4 linked regions of the Homo sapiens genome follow. The protein of the gene in region 4 purifies or fractionates together with the protein of the main gene of each other region. This does not show direct contact. Each region holds a gene or a part of one and is shown on either strand. Other genes may lie near its edges.

Region 1 (3,500 bases), on a different chromosome or scaffold from region 4:
GCCTCTCACCACGACCGGAAATGCTGACAAATGTGTATATATTATCAATCCAGGGAGGCTTGGGTTTAAAATAAAATTTCTTTATTGCAAGTGTCCAAGTCCTTAGGATTTGTCCTTAAAGGTACTAGAAGATGAGTAAGACCACACACACCAAGACTATGTTTAGTCTTTAGAGTAAACTAGCAAATGGCCAGTTTGTTCTAGGATGCATTGCATCAGACATCACAGTACATGAAGAAAATCTGCTTTTTGTGAAAAGCCACCAGGCATTTTAGATCCCGTTTACCATGAAGTGCAGACACAGCAGATACCCAGATAATACAGTCAGTGCAAAAGTCAAATGAGTAAGTCAGCTCTTTGATGAGGCTGGCTACACTGCAAAATATAAATGAAACTCGAAAATAGAAGGTAAGGTCTATTTACAAAAGTTTGTTTAGTAAAGTGACTTGAAAAAAGTTGTTAACCACTTCCCAGGCATCCCTCCCCTCTCCCACCAAAACAAACAAACAAAAAACAACAACAACAAAAACCCTGAAAATTATCTTGAAAGTCAAGTTAAAACTATGTGGTGAAAAAGAGAGTGCTTGTTCCAGGTAAAGGACTTCAAGATAATTTACAGGCAGATTTATTTTTATTAGTAAAAGTCACAAATAGGAAAAGACTTATTGGCTGACTTTGAGCTGTGTGCTTTTAAAAATGTCTCTATTATTACGTTAACAAGAAAAAAAAATCAAGCAAGTTTTTGCTTCCAGTTTTGAATCTTCCAGCAACAGTTGGTGAAATCAACAAGGTATTAAAATGAAACCCAGCAAAACCCAGTCAGTTCTTTCCAGTTGTCTGCCTGTTTCTTTCTAGTCACCTTGAATTCAATTCCCAATTAGCTGAGGACAACATGCCGGTCAAAGACAGACTTTCGCTGCTCTTGGACTTGAAGCTTCCAGCGCTGCTGTGCATATTCTACCTTGTTCAGCACGTTGGCTCGACTGCGGGAGCGGGCTAGCACATCGTGTGCATTTGCAAAAGGCTGGTGATCCTAAAAGTCCAGGAATGGAGAACATTAGAGATGGCACAGTCAGTGTAAAACATAGACACACAACAGTGACCAGCCCGCCACAGAAATAGGGGTAGGTGGACTTTTCAAACAACAGAGCATCTATTTAGCTAAGCACTCCTAAGCGCTCAACTACCAGATAGAGTATGAACTCAAGTACAGACCTAGGTGGTTCAAGAAACATAAGCGATGACAGAGTATTTGTGAAACGTTCCCATGGATTGCCATTTCCAAAGATATTTCCCTTAAAGAAGTGGAGACCAAGCAAAAGACAGTGGTCATTTGTGTTAAAGAGAAGCCTTCCTTAACTGATAGGGAAAAGAAAATCTATTTTCATGTTAACATCTCTCCATGTTATAGATATGGAAAGTAGGGTCTTTCCTTGCTTTATTCGATACTATAAAGCTAATCTGTGGCAGAGGAAAGATCTGTCTTTTAATTTCCTGTCTCCATTAGAATTGTTTTCTTGCCAGCTTGGGGCCACATCACTCTGGGAGGGTGAGCGACAGAGTCTTATCTTGGGTTGTTTTTAATCTCTCCCTGTACCCTCAACACACACACTAAATGGATTAGCTTCCAAAAGCTTCCTCATTTCCCCACTTCCCCAATGTGTAATGAAAAGAGACACAGCTCAAGTGCTACAATCACCCTCTCTATTCAACAAAGATTGAATCTTCCATTGTTAAGCACCCAGTGGCTTCCATGTAAGTTGCTGCCTTGGGAAAGAGGCTATTGAAGGGTTGCCCAGGTATCTGTATAGAAAACCAACCTAACCTGGTCAAAGTAAACGAGTACAACTGGATGTTTGTAGTCATTACACAGGAAACCACCATGCTAATCTATCTATGAATGAGATATAAACACAGCTGTCTAAATGACAAAAAGCATTCAATAGTAATTTATTGCTTTTGTTTGCCTTTTCCTTGATCTCTTTTTCTTGAACCCCGTGTTAGCAAAGCTTCTCAATGTTCCAACAGAAGATCCAAGTCACAAGTTGTACCTCTTATACTAAACTTTGCCTCTAGGAGAGAAACAACATTATTTTGCTGTGCATGTTTGAAAAAGCTCTATTATATATCCAGGGCAGGAGTCTGCATGTATATGGAAAGCTATATACATAACCACATAACTATATATACAACTATAATTATAGGAGTTAGAACACCTGGTCTTGTTTTTATAGCAAGGCATTTATACAATGTCTACATTTGAAAGATATCAAAGAGTTTTTATAAAGAATCTTTCCTCCTCTTCTTTGTCAAAATTCCTTCAACTTTTCACTTTATTTAGGTAATGGCTTGTACAAATCCTAAAACTCAAGTTATTTAAAAAGTGGATTTTTTTTTTTTAAAGAGATGGGGTCTCACTATATTGCCCAGACTGGCCATGAACTTAATTTTTTTTTTTTTTTTGAAATAGGGTCTACCCATGTTGCCCAGGCTGGAAGGCAGGGGCTATTCACAGGTGTGATCACAGCTCACTGCAGCCTTGAACTCCTGGCCTCAAGTGATCCTCCTGCCTCAGCGTCCCAAGTAGCTGGGACCTATAGCCTATTTTTAAACTTTTAACCTTACAAATGAAAATAATAAAGGCAATTTCATGAGGCTTAAAATGTTTTAAAAAATGTAAGAAAAAAGCTAAAAAAGAAAAAAAAAAAGGAGGCAGGCTAAAGTTATAGAATTGCTTGATTTTCCATTATGGCAATAAATTGACCCAAGGTCATTTAACAAATTAGCATAAAGACTAAAACTTAGCCTGCCTAACCCTGACTTGGTGTTATATTGTCTCAAAACAGATTTTGGTCAGGTAGATTAAAATGACACTATAAGAATATGGTGCTTCAGTGAATTTGTGTATAAAATATCATCCCCTGAAGTCAAGGACCAGAGGAGGAAAATATTATCACCATTGGTTTGTTTTGACATAAGCAATACTGGGAAGAAGGATGTACTTGATCGGCAGAGGACCTCTCAGTTGCCTAGTGCTGTTATCTATTCTTCAAGGTAGGGGAGAAAAATCTTCTTAAGGAACAAGTTCAAAAGACTAAACAAACCAGCTAATCCTTTGGGTCTGCTCTCTATCCATCAGAACGAGATTGAACTAGCTGCTCATGGTCACAGATGCTGGGGGAATGCAAATAGAGATTTACCCTTTTTATGTTTGTTCTTTTCACACCTGATAAAATTACAATAAATACAAAACATGTTTTACTGTAATGCTTTGGTAATAACGATGATGTGTCATGGATATATGATATAGTAAATATTGTGACTACTTGCAGTGAGCTTAACTATTTGTACTCACTTTTATTTGCTTTAAAATGCTCTACACTGAACAAAAACAGAAAAAATGAAAACTGATAGTTCAACAAAAACATTTTTAAAGTATATAAATAGTGCAGAACTCACATCTTGGATAAGCAACAGTTTTAAAAATTAAAATTCACTTA
Region 2 (3,500 bases), on a different chromosome or scaffold from region 4:
TAGGTAGAACACAGAGAATAAGCTTAGTGCAGGGACACTATTCTGTATACTATAATGCTGGATACATGTCATTATACATTTGTACAAACCCATAGAATGCACAACACCAAGATGTGTGCACTCTGGGCTCTGGATGATGATGATGTGTCAATATAGGTTCATCAACTGCAACAAATGTACTCTTGTGGAGGATGTCGATAATGCATATGTACATATGTAGGGACGCAGTTATTTGAGAAATCTCTAGACCTTCCTCTCGATTTTGCTGTGGACCTAAAACTGCTTTAAAATATGAAGTCTATTAAAAAACAACAAATCCAGATAAACTGACTTAAATCTAAAAAATAAAACTGCAAGATTCTTAGGAGCAAACTTGGGTAGCTATCTTTTAAACCCAGGATAGGGAATAATTTATTTAAAAGGGCATGAAAAGCAATTACAGTAAGTCCTCACTTAACACTGCTGATAGGTTCTTGGAACTGAGACTTTAAGAAAAACAATGTGCTTCAGGTCCTTTAATAATGCTGTTTCGCTCAATATCATTTCTTTTCTTTCTTTTTTTGAGACAGGGTCTCACTATGCTGCCCAGGTTAGAGTGCAATGACACGATTCCAGCTCACTGCAGCCTTAACTCTTGGGCTCAAGTCATTCTCTCACCTCCACCTCCAAAGTAGCTGGGACTACAGGTGTGCATCACCACTTCTGGCTAATGTTTCATTGTTTATAATATCATTTCCTTAGAACACTGATGAGAAAAAAGAAACTGGTTTCATTATAAGTTATTTTGCTTAAAGTCAGTTTCCAAGAACCCGTCAATGACATTAAGTGAGGACTTACTGTATGATAAACAATGGACAAATTTGACTTAAGAATTTTTTTTATCAAAAGATGCACAGCAATGACAAAAACTGTATTTAGGATTCCGAGTTTGTAAACTTCTGAACTAGTAAACTGTTCAGAAGATTAATATTTTGCTTTATATCCAGTATTAAATCTGATCAACTCCAGCATTTTAATGGCAAGCTATGAAAATACCTAAATAACTGACTCACATAATCTTACGGAATATACTGCCCTTTAAACAAAAGAATAAAATATTATTAATGACTAATAATAAGTAGTTTGCAACAGAGAGGTATGGAATTGGAAAATAAGCAACTGATGAAGTGTATGTATAATTTTTGCTATTTCTTTGCTTCTGAATTTACTCATTAACTAAATCAACCTAGCATTTGGGTGCCTAGCATGTGTGAAGCAATACAATATTTTATACAACTTCCTATGGCTGTTCATTTGGATAGTTTACAAATCCCCAGGCCATAAACTATTAATATAACTTTACCCTTTCTATACCAAATGTACAATAGATATTAAATACAAGCCTGTTGATGATAACGATGTAAATTATTCCAAATATTTGCCAAAGAAGGTAGAGGCATTTAAAACTGTCCCTCCCACACAACTCCATAAAAGAAAGCGAAAAAGTTAGGAACTGAAAGAAGACATTCACAATGTACACAGAGGATTAACATAAGCAATATAAAGAACTCTTATAAACTAGTAAGAAAAACAAAAATAGGCAAGAGACATAAATAGGAATTTCACTGAAGAAGCCACGTAAAAAGGCCGACAAACATAAAAAGAAGTGTTCTACATCAGTGATAACCAGGAAAATGCGCATCAAGACCACAATAAGGCAACATTTTACACCCTTATGATTTGTAAAACTTAAAAAGAGAATATCAAGTGTTGGAGAGGATGGATAACCAAAGGATCTTTTATTTCATATATTGCTAATATGAATATAAATTGGTGCAACCATATTGAAAGTTCTGCATCATCTCTTAAGTTGAACATTCACCTACCCTGTGAGGCAGCAATGCTACCTCTAGGTATATAATAGGAACTGTGGCACATGCACAGTAGGAAACATGCAGACTGTCCATAGGATCTTTGCTTATAATTACAAACAAAACAAAACAAAAAATGGAAAATAACTGCCCAACAAGGGAGAGTGGATAAATATCCAAATATCCACCAAAGTAGAGTTAATGAATATTTTACTCAATGAAATATTATATAGCAATTTAAATAATGACTATAGCAACATGCAAAAATGTGGATAAATCTTATTTATAACAGGTGAAAAATCAAGTTCAAAAAGATTATATTCACAATTCTATACAAACAACTAAAAGATGTTTAGATTTATATGTCCAACTAAACTATACACAGTAGTCTCCTTTTATCCACCGAGAGACCTTCAGTAAATGCCTAAAACCACGAACAGTACTAAACTCTATTTACACTTTTCCTTTAACATACATACTTATGCTAAAGTTTAATTTATAAATTAGGCACAGTAAGCAATTAACAATAACTAATAATAAAATAGAACAATTATAACTATACTGTAATTACAGTTATGAGTGTGGTTTCTCTCAAAGTATCTTAGTACTTATAAATATCTTATAGTACTATACTGTACTCACCTATTTTTGGACCACAGTTGACCATGGGTAACTGAAACCGTGGATAAGGAGGGACTACTATATAAGGAAGAGAATGAACACAGGACTCAAAAATGATGACCTAGATGACAAGAAGGTGGAAATAGACGGATAGAATAGAGGAAAACTATACGTAGGTTAAAGTTCCTAGCTTGTTTTGAGAGAGGGGGAGTGGTGGTCCATGAGTACTTATTAAAATGATTGACAGACAGATAGGTGATTAATCCAATGCAGTGTGCCTGATGTTTAACAAATTTTTTAAAAATCCAAAAGTTGCATAAAATTTGTTCAATGAAAATTCTGAAATGGAGAACAAACACCTCCTTAAAGAATCCCTAAGGTAGCAACTACAGGGAAGGGAAAACAGTATGATTAATGTGTAAAATATATGATACTCAGGCCAGGCACAGACGCTCACATCTGTAATCCTAGCACTTTGGGAGGCCAAGGCAGGTGGACTGCTTGAGTCCAGCAGTTCAAAACCAACCCGGGCAACATGGCAAAACCCCGTCTCTCCAAAAAAATATAAAAATCAACCATGCATGATGGCTCACACCTATAGTACCAGCTACTTGGGAGGCTGAGATGGGCGAATCACTTGAGCCCAGGAGGCAGAGGCTGCAGTGAGCCGAGATCACGTCACTGCACTTCAAGCTGGGTGACAGAACGAGATCCTGTCTCAAAAATAAAAATAAAAATAAAATAAATAAAAAACTCTCAGCACATGTATTGTGTGGTATGTCTTCTATAATCAAAAATAAATTCCAAATTTTGTCATAACTACATTCCATTAAATTAAGGTACTTATGAGCCAGGGCAGTAAAACTTTCACCAATTTGATAAGTCACTGACAAATTTCTAAAAGAGATAAATCCTAACAATATTATGTAAGTCTTGTATATCCACTCATCTTTATGAGGCACTTCAACACTACCTTCACATTTAAGGTGTTTACTGTCATCAAGTACACTGTCCCATGCTTTCTTGATC
Region 3 (3,500 bases), on a different chromosome or scaffold from region 4:
CACCACACCTGTCTTTTTGTTGTTGTTGTTGTTGAGACAGAGTCTCACTATGTTGCTCAGGCTGGTCTTGAACTTCTGGGCTCAAGCAGTCCTCCTGCCTTGGCCTCCCAAAGTGCTGGAATTACAGGCATGAGCCACTGTGCCCAGCCAAATAACACATTCTTTCTTTTTTTTCTTTTTTGAGATGATCTTGGCTCACTGCAACCTCTGCCTCCTGGGTTCAAGCGATTCTCCTACCTCGGCCTCCTGAGTAGCTGGGATTACAGACGTGTGCACATGTGCCACCACGCCCAGCCAATTTTTGTATTTTTAGTAGAAATGGAGTTTCACCATGTTGGCCAGGCTGGTCTCGAACTCCTGACCTCAGGTGATCTGCCCACCTCGGCCTCCCAAAGTGCTGGGATTACAGGCAAGAGCCACCGCACCCGGCCAAATAACCCATTCTTGGATAATCTCTAAGACCAAGTCTCAATGAAAATTGAAAACTGTATATTGAGCTGTAAAACCACCTGCTTTGTGGCTGGGGTATGAGGATTAAATACATGGGCATAAGAGAAGTGACTCCCTTAGTGCCTGGTACAAGGTGGGTGTTCACAGAATGATGGCACAAGCTCCCCATGGCCATGGTGCTACTCACCACCCTTCTTTTCCTGAGACTTCCTTTCCTAAGACTCCTATTCTTTCTATTTCCTTGCCTTTGGCAGTCATTTCCTCTTCTCCTTGCTTTCTTAGGTCAGTGACCTATCAAGATATCCTTTTGGCCTCTACTTTTCTCCTGTTAATTGACTTGCTTTGCAAGCCCAGACTCTTCCAAAGCTTCAATACCACCTCTAGGAAAGTAACTCACAGAAGGTCCTCTCCAGCCTGACTTCTTCTTTGGCCTTGGAAATGCCTTCTGAGGTTGAAGTAGGGAGGATCTGGTGTCGTCACTGAGTTTTTCAAGTTGGATCCTACATTCCTGCTTTTATAATGGGCAGCTGCCATCACGGCCCCTATACGTAGTCTCTTTTGCTTTCTCTTGCTTTATTGAAAGTCAATAGAAGGTTTCCTGGGAAATTCCTGCAGTCACAGGAGAGAGTAGCACTCCTTTTCTCTTTTGAACTTCAGGGGTGTTTGCTTGCCTCTGACCACTTGCTGCCTGTGGGAATTTCCTCTTCACTGCTCGATTGGATGCTCATCAAAGGCTATGTTGATGTCTGGTGCTTTTTTTATATTCTCCACAGCCATGGGAACTGGCCTTGCACCACATGAAAAGAGAGTTTTGGGAAGTGTTAAAGCATGCGTAAAAAGGGGTAGAACCAGCTGGGTGTGGTGACTCATGATGTAATCCCAGTACTTTGGGAGGCCACGGTGGGCAAATCACATGAGCCTAGGAATTCAAGACCAGCATGGGCAACGTGGTGAAACCCTGTCTCTATGAAAAATAAGAAATTAGCTGATGTGGCGGCACATGCCTGTAGTCCCAGCTACTTGGGACGCTGAGTTGGGAGGATCACCTGGGCCTAAGAGGTCAAGGCTGCAGTGAGCTGTGATCATGCCACTACACTCCAGCCTGCTGAGTGACAGAGTGAGACTCTGTCTCAAAAAAAAAAAGTCGCTTGCCGGGCGTAGTGGCTCGTGCCTGTAATCCCAGCACTTCGGAGGCCAAGGTGGGCAGATCACCTGAGGTCAGGAGTTGGAGACCAGCCTGACAAACATGGAGAAACCCTGTCTCTACTAAAAAATACAAAATTAGCTGGGCATGGTGGCGCATGCCTATAATCCTAGCTACTCTGGAAGCCAAGGCAGGAGAATCACTTGAACCTGGGAGACGGAGGTTGCGGTGAGGCAAGATTGCGCCATTGCACTCCAACCTGGTCAACAAGAACGAAACTCCATCTCAAAAAAAAAAAAAGTCGCTGTAAGAGATATTTGTTGTGGTCGGGCACAGTGGCTCACGCCTGTAATACCAGCACTTTGGGAGGCCAAGGCGGGCGGATCATGAGGTCAGGAGATTGAGACCATCCTGGCTAACACGGTGAAACCCCGTCTCTACTAAAAATACAAAAAATTAGCCGGGCGCGGTGGCAGGCGCCTGTAGCCCCAGCTACTCAGGAGGCTGAAGCAGGAGAATGGCGTGAACCAGGGAGGCGGAGCTTGCAGTGAGCCGAGATTGTGCCACTGCACTCCAGCCTGGGTGGCAGAGCGAGACTCTGTCTCAAAAAAGAAAAAAAAAAAGAAAGATATTTGTTGTTTTCTCTTTAGTTAGAAATCTGTTGTTGTTGTTGTTGTTTTTGAGATGGACTCTTGCTCTGTCATCCAGGCTGGAGTCCAGTGGCATTATCTCGGCTCACTGCAACCTCCGCCTCCAGGATTCAAGCAATTCTCCTGCCTCAGCCTCCTGCATAGCTGGGATTATAGGCATGTGCCAACAGTACTGGCTAATTTTTTATATTTTTGGTAGAGATGGGAATTCACCATGTTGGCTAGGCTGGTTTCGAACTCCTGACCTCAAGTGATCCACCCACCTCAGCCTCCCAAAGTGCTGGGATTACAGGCGTGAGCCATGCGCCCAGCCGAAATATTGTTTGCTATTGCAATTGTACTAATCTTTGTTACACTGTAGGTGGATTTGTAAAATATTGGGAGTTAACTTTGCTGCCCTCTGTGTATTTTTTAATATTTATTTATTTATTTATTTTGAGACGGAGTCTCTGTTGCCCAGGCTGGAGTATAGTGGTGTGATCTCGGCTCACTGCATCCTCTGCCTCCAGGGTTCAAGTAATTCTCATGCCTCAGCCTCCCAAGTAGCTGGGACTATAGGTGTACACCACCATGCCCAGCTAATTTTTGTATTTGTAGTAGACACGAGATTTCACCATGTTGGCCAGGCTGGTCTCGAACTCCTGACCTCAAGTGATCCACCCACTTTGGCCTCCCAAAATGCTGGGATTATAGGTGTGAGCCACTGTGCCAGGCCTTTTATTTTATCTATCTATGTATCTATGTATGTGTGTGTGTGTGTCTGTCTGTCTGTCTCTCTGTCTGTCTATATCTATCTATCTATCTATCTATCTATCTATCTATCTATCTATCTATCTTTTGAGACGGTCTCACTCTGTTGGCCAGGCTGGAGTGCAGTGGTGCTCTCACACCTCACTGCAACTTCGCCTCCCAGGGCTCAAGCAATCCTCCCACCTCTGCCTCCCCAGTAACTGGGACCACAAGTGCACGCCACCACGCCTGGCTAATTTTTGTATTTTTTGTACAGATGGGTTTCGCCATGTTGCCCAGGCTGTTCTCAAACTTCTGGGCTCAAACAATCCACCCACCTCCCCACCTCAGCCTCCCAAAGTGCTGGGAATACAGTCGTGAGCCACTGTTCCCAGCCTGTATGGGTTTTTTTTAAATAAATAAATAAAATATTGGGGTTTTCTGTTTTTGTGGGGTTTTTTTGTTTGTTTTTTTTTTTGAGATGGAGTCTCGCTCTGTCTCCCAGGCTAGAGTGCAGTGGTGTGATC
Region 4 (3,500 bases):
CAGACGTCGTAGCTCGCCAAGTTCTGCGGGTGGGAGCTGCGTCAACCTATCTGGCCCAGCCCTTCCTTTGGGGGGCCTGGGGGAGGATATGGCCCCGGATAGGCACTGACAGCAGGGATGGGACCTGGGGCCCAGGGTGTTGGCAGGACGCACCTTGGCCTCGATGCCGATCTTCATGATGGTGCCCGAGATGGTGAGCACATCGCTGGTGACGAGCAGGATGTACCAGCCATTGACAAATTCCAGCCGCTCCCACAGGCTGATGACCCGTCCCCGCTGCCGCCACATGAACCCCACAAACTCCTGCAGAAGGCAGGCGGGGTGAGGGCCTGACCAGGCACAGGACCCTCAAAGCCCTGGCTTTTATCGCCCCAGGGCCAGGCGGGGAGGACACCAGCACACATGACGCAGAAGCCTCACGTTCTGCAGCAGGAAGCCTCGAAGGAGTGAGCGGGCGCAGAGGAGGAAGGACAGGGAGCAGGTGAGGATGACCACCACGTCAAACAGGAGCCGGAAGCTGTTGTCTCCTGCGGGGAGGGCAGAGCGGGTAGGGCCAAGGATGGCATGGAGCCTTGGGAGGCTAGCATTGGTGCCAGGCCAGGCTGGAGACCTAGGGGGCTGCACGGCTGGTTTTGGTTGGTCAGTGGGCTCAGGGCTTGCTTGGGGTGAGTCAAGAACCCCGGTCAGTGCTGGTCTGGGGCTTGGGGGATCTCAGCACAGGACGGGGTCCCTGGTCTGTGCTGATCTGAGGCTCAGCGGATTCCTGGGGAGGTCACGGCCCCCAGGCAGCGCTGATCTGGGGCTTGGGGAATCCCAGGACAGGCCAGGGCCCCTGGTCAGTGCTGGTCTGGGGCTCAGGGGCTCACCGTGCTGGAAGACACTGGGGTGCTTACACTCCTGGATGTGGGCCTGGGTCTCCAGGCTGATGGGGATCCGCCCACTGTGTGCTTTGTTGTCAAACGTGATCTGTGGGGGCCAGTTGGGGGCAGAGTAAACCTTGGCAGCCCCAAGCCCCAAGGTCCACATGACAGGTGGCCTGACAGACCCCGGGCTCCCTCCCTCATCACCCGCACGCTTGCCCTTGGCCAGTGCTCCCAAGACACTCCCTGACCAGGTCCCTGCCCTGGAACTCAGGAGCCCTGTGGGTTCCCGGGGGGCCTCACCAGGACGCTGAAGGTATAGCAGTCCGGGATCTCATTATTGATGAGGCTCTGGAGGTTAATGGTCTTCAGCCGGAAGTGGATGGTGACATTGACCAGCCTAGGCAGGAGGCTCGGGTGAGGGTCAGGGGCGTCTTCGGGTCCCTTCCGGCCCCAAGTGCCAGCGTCCCCTGCCACGTGCTGACTCTGCAGCTGGCAGGGGAAGTGCTCACCCAGCAGGCACCAGCGCGGGCGGGGGGGCCCTGTCCCCACCTTAGGGAAGTAGTTGCTGGGGTGAGAGTGCCTAGTGTGCTGCCTCCCCCACCCTGGGCCCCCCTCGAGTGAGCAGGCAGTACTTGTGGAATTTGAGCGTGAGGTTCTTGTAACTGGAGCTGCTTTCCAAGAGGGTGAGATCGTCGCTGGGGGGCGGAGGGGGCCGCTCGGGGGGATCCACCTGGATGCAGTCTAAGGACAGGGAGTCAGGGAAGGGCCTCAGGGGGCCGGGGAGGCCAGGCTGGTCTCCCCAGAGTCCCCAGTGGCCTTCTTCCCTGTGCTTCCCCAGGGTTGGGTCATTCCTACAGGCCTGGCACTCTCTGGGCCTGCGGATGTTTTACTGAATGAGCCATATTAAAATATAACATCTGGTGCTTTCTACGTGGCAAGAGTCACACTCACACTAAGCATACTTGTTTTTTTTTTTTTTTTTTTTTTTTGAGACAGGGTCTCACTCTGTCACCCAGGGTGGAGTGCAGCAGCGTGGTCATAGCTTACTGCAGCCTCAACCTCCCGGACTCAAGCGATCCTCCTGCCTCAGCCTCCTGAGTAGCTGGGACCACAGGGGCACGCCACCACGCCCAGCTAATTTGTTTGTGCGTAGAGACAAGGTCTTCCTACGTGGCCCAGGCTGGTCTCAAACTTCTGGCCTCAAGCAATCCTTCCTCCTCAGCCTCCCAAAGTGCTGGTATTATAGGCGTGAGCCACCGTGCCCAGCCACAGCTGTTGATTTTAATCCCAGCAGCTCAGGCTCCCAACAGTGAAGCCTCGTCCTGCCCACTCACCAGTAACCACCATCGGATCAATGTCAAATGTGTCGTTGGCCGGGTCCACGTGGCCTCGGTGGTAGTACCGCTGGCAGAGAGCAAGCCCTGAGCCATTGGTCCAAGGGTCACCCCCACCACGGACATACGCATACCGGCCCAGTGACACGTCAGGCAACGCCAGGTACTGTGGGCAGAGAAGGGGAGGGCCTGTGAGTCCGGCCCGCTCTCTGCAGCCCACCCACCTGCACCTGCCCGCCCACCAGCACCTGCCCGCCCAACTGCACCTGCCCGCCCACCTGCACCTGCCTGCCCACCAGCACCTGCCCGCCCACCAGCACCTGGTCCACAGCATGGAAGATGGCCTGGTACAGCTGCTCCCGCGTGTAGGCTGCGAAGGTGTCATCCGCTCCGTCCGAGTAGCCCAGCAGGAAGAGGTGTCGGAAGGCGATGGTGTTCTCTTCCCGGAATGTCACAGCCAGCTGATTACTGAGCCCAAACAGGATGAGCTGGGGAGAGGGTAGTAGAGGTTGGCATGGCTAGGATGGGGGTTGGGGTGTATCTCCCTCAGGGCACAGGCCCTGGAAGAGGACAGGGAGGGCCCTGCAGATGTCCACTGGGGTGGGGCAGGGCCCTGCTAACTTGGGCCACAAACACGGATTTCACTTGTGCATTTCTTTGCTTTGATTAATTTCACCCCACCTCCTGGCATAAGCTCCATGCCACGCCCACCACTGTGTCCTCCCCCGTACAACACAGGGTGGGGACTCATCTATCTCACTGCAGGGACTAACGTTCATTAAATGTTTACTGGATGTCCGATTCTGTGTTAAACCCAAACTTTCAGGGTAAGTACCATGACTGGGTCCCTTTTCTTTTCTTTTTTGAGACAGAGTCTCACTCTGTTGCCCAAGTTGGAGTGCCATGGTATGATCTCAGCTCACTACAACCTCCACCCCCTGGGTTCAAGCAATTCTCCTGTCTCAGCCTCCTGAGTAGCTGAGTTACAGGTACCTGCCACCAAACCCAGCTAATTTTTGTATTTTTAGTAGAGACGGGGTTTTGCAATGTTGGCCAGGCTGGTCTCAAACTCCTGGCCTCAAATGATCCACCCAACTCAGCCTCCCAAAGTGCTGGCATTACAGGCATGAGCCACCATGCCTGGACAATTGGGTCCCTTTTCAGAGGGAAAATTAGAGGCATGGTGACATGCTAAAGTCAGCCCAAAACATGAAGTAAGCACTTAGGGCAGTGGCTGGGTCTGATTCATCTTGGGGTTCCCAGAGCCCAGCACAGGGTCTGGCATGGGGGAGGGAGAACTATC

The links. The genes of interacting proteins can lie anywhere in the genome.
Region 1: the proteins of MCOLN1 (region 4) and TMEM9B fractionate together in Homo sapiens (co-fractionation; one large-scale study listed by BioGRID). This does not show direct contact.
Region 2: the proteins of MCOLN1 (region 4) and PKN2 fractionate together in Homo sapiens (co-fractionation; one large-scale study listed by BioGRID). This does not show direct contact.
Region 3: the proteins of MCOLN1 (region 4) and PRKAR2A fractionate together in Homo sapiens (co-fractionation; one large-scale study listed by BioGRID). This does not show direct contact.

The regions. Positions count from the first base shown.
Region 1 is NC_000011.10:8,947,443-8,950,942, forward strand, and holds part of TMEM9B (transmembrane protein 9B isoform a precursor), read right to left. Parts: intron 1,034-3,500; coding exon 878-1,033; 3' UTR 1-877. UniProt on the Homo sapiens protein: Enhances production of pro-inflammatory cytokines induced by TNF, IL1B, and TLR ligands. Has a role in TNF activation of both the NF-kappaB and MAPK pathways.
Region 2 is NC_000001.11:88,690,773-88,694,272, reverse strand, and holds part of PKN2 (serine/threonine-protein kinase N2), read right to left. Parts: intron 2,550-3,500; exon of another isoform or gene 2,493-2,549; intron 1-2,492. UniProt on the Homo sapiens protein: PKC-related serine/threonine-protein kinase and Rho/Rac effector protein that participates in specific signal transduction responses in the cell.
Region 3 is NC_000003.12:48,767,875-48,771,374, reverse strand, and holds part of PRKAR2A (cAMP-dependent protein kinase type II-alpha regulatory subunit), read left to right. Parts: intron 1-3,500. UniProt on the Homo sapiens protein: Regulatory subunit of the cAMP-dependent protein kinases involved in cAMP signaling in cells. Type II regulatory chains mediate membrane association by binding to anchoring proteins, including the MAP2 kinase.
Region 4 is NC_000019.10:7,525,624-7,529,123, reverse strand, and holds part of MCOLN1 (mucolipin-1), read right to left. Parts: intron 2,686-3,500; coding exon 2,518-2,685; intron 2,364-2,517; coding exon 2,198-2,363; intron 1,605-2,197; coding exon 1,496-1,604; intron 1,261-1,495; coding exon 1,164-1,260; intron 967-1,163; coding exon 867-966; intron 528-866; coding exon 421-527; intron 304-420; coding exon 154-303; intron 24-153; coding exon 1-23. UniProt on the Homo sapiens protein: Nonselective cation channel probably playing a role in the regulation of membrane trafficking events and of metal homeostasis. Acts as a Ca(2+)-permeable cation channel with inwardly rectifying activity.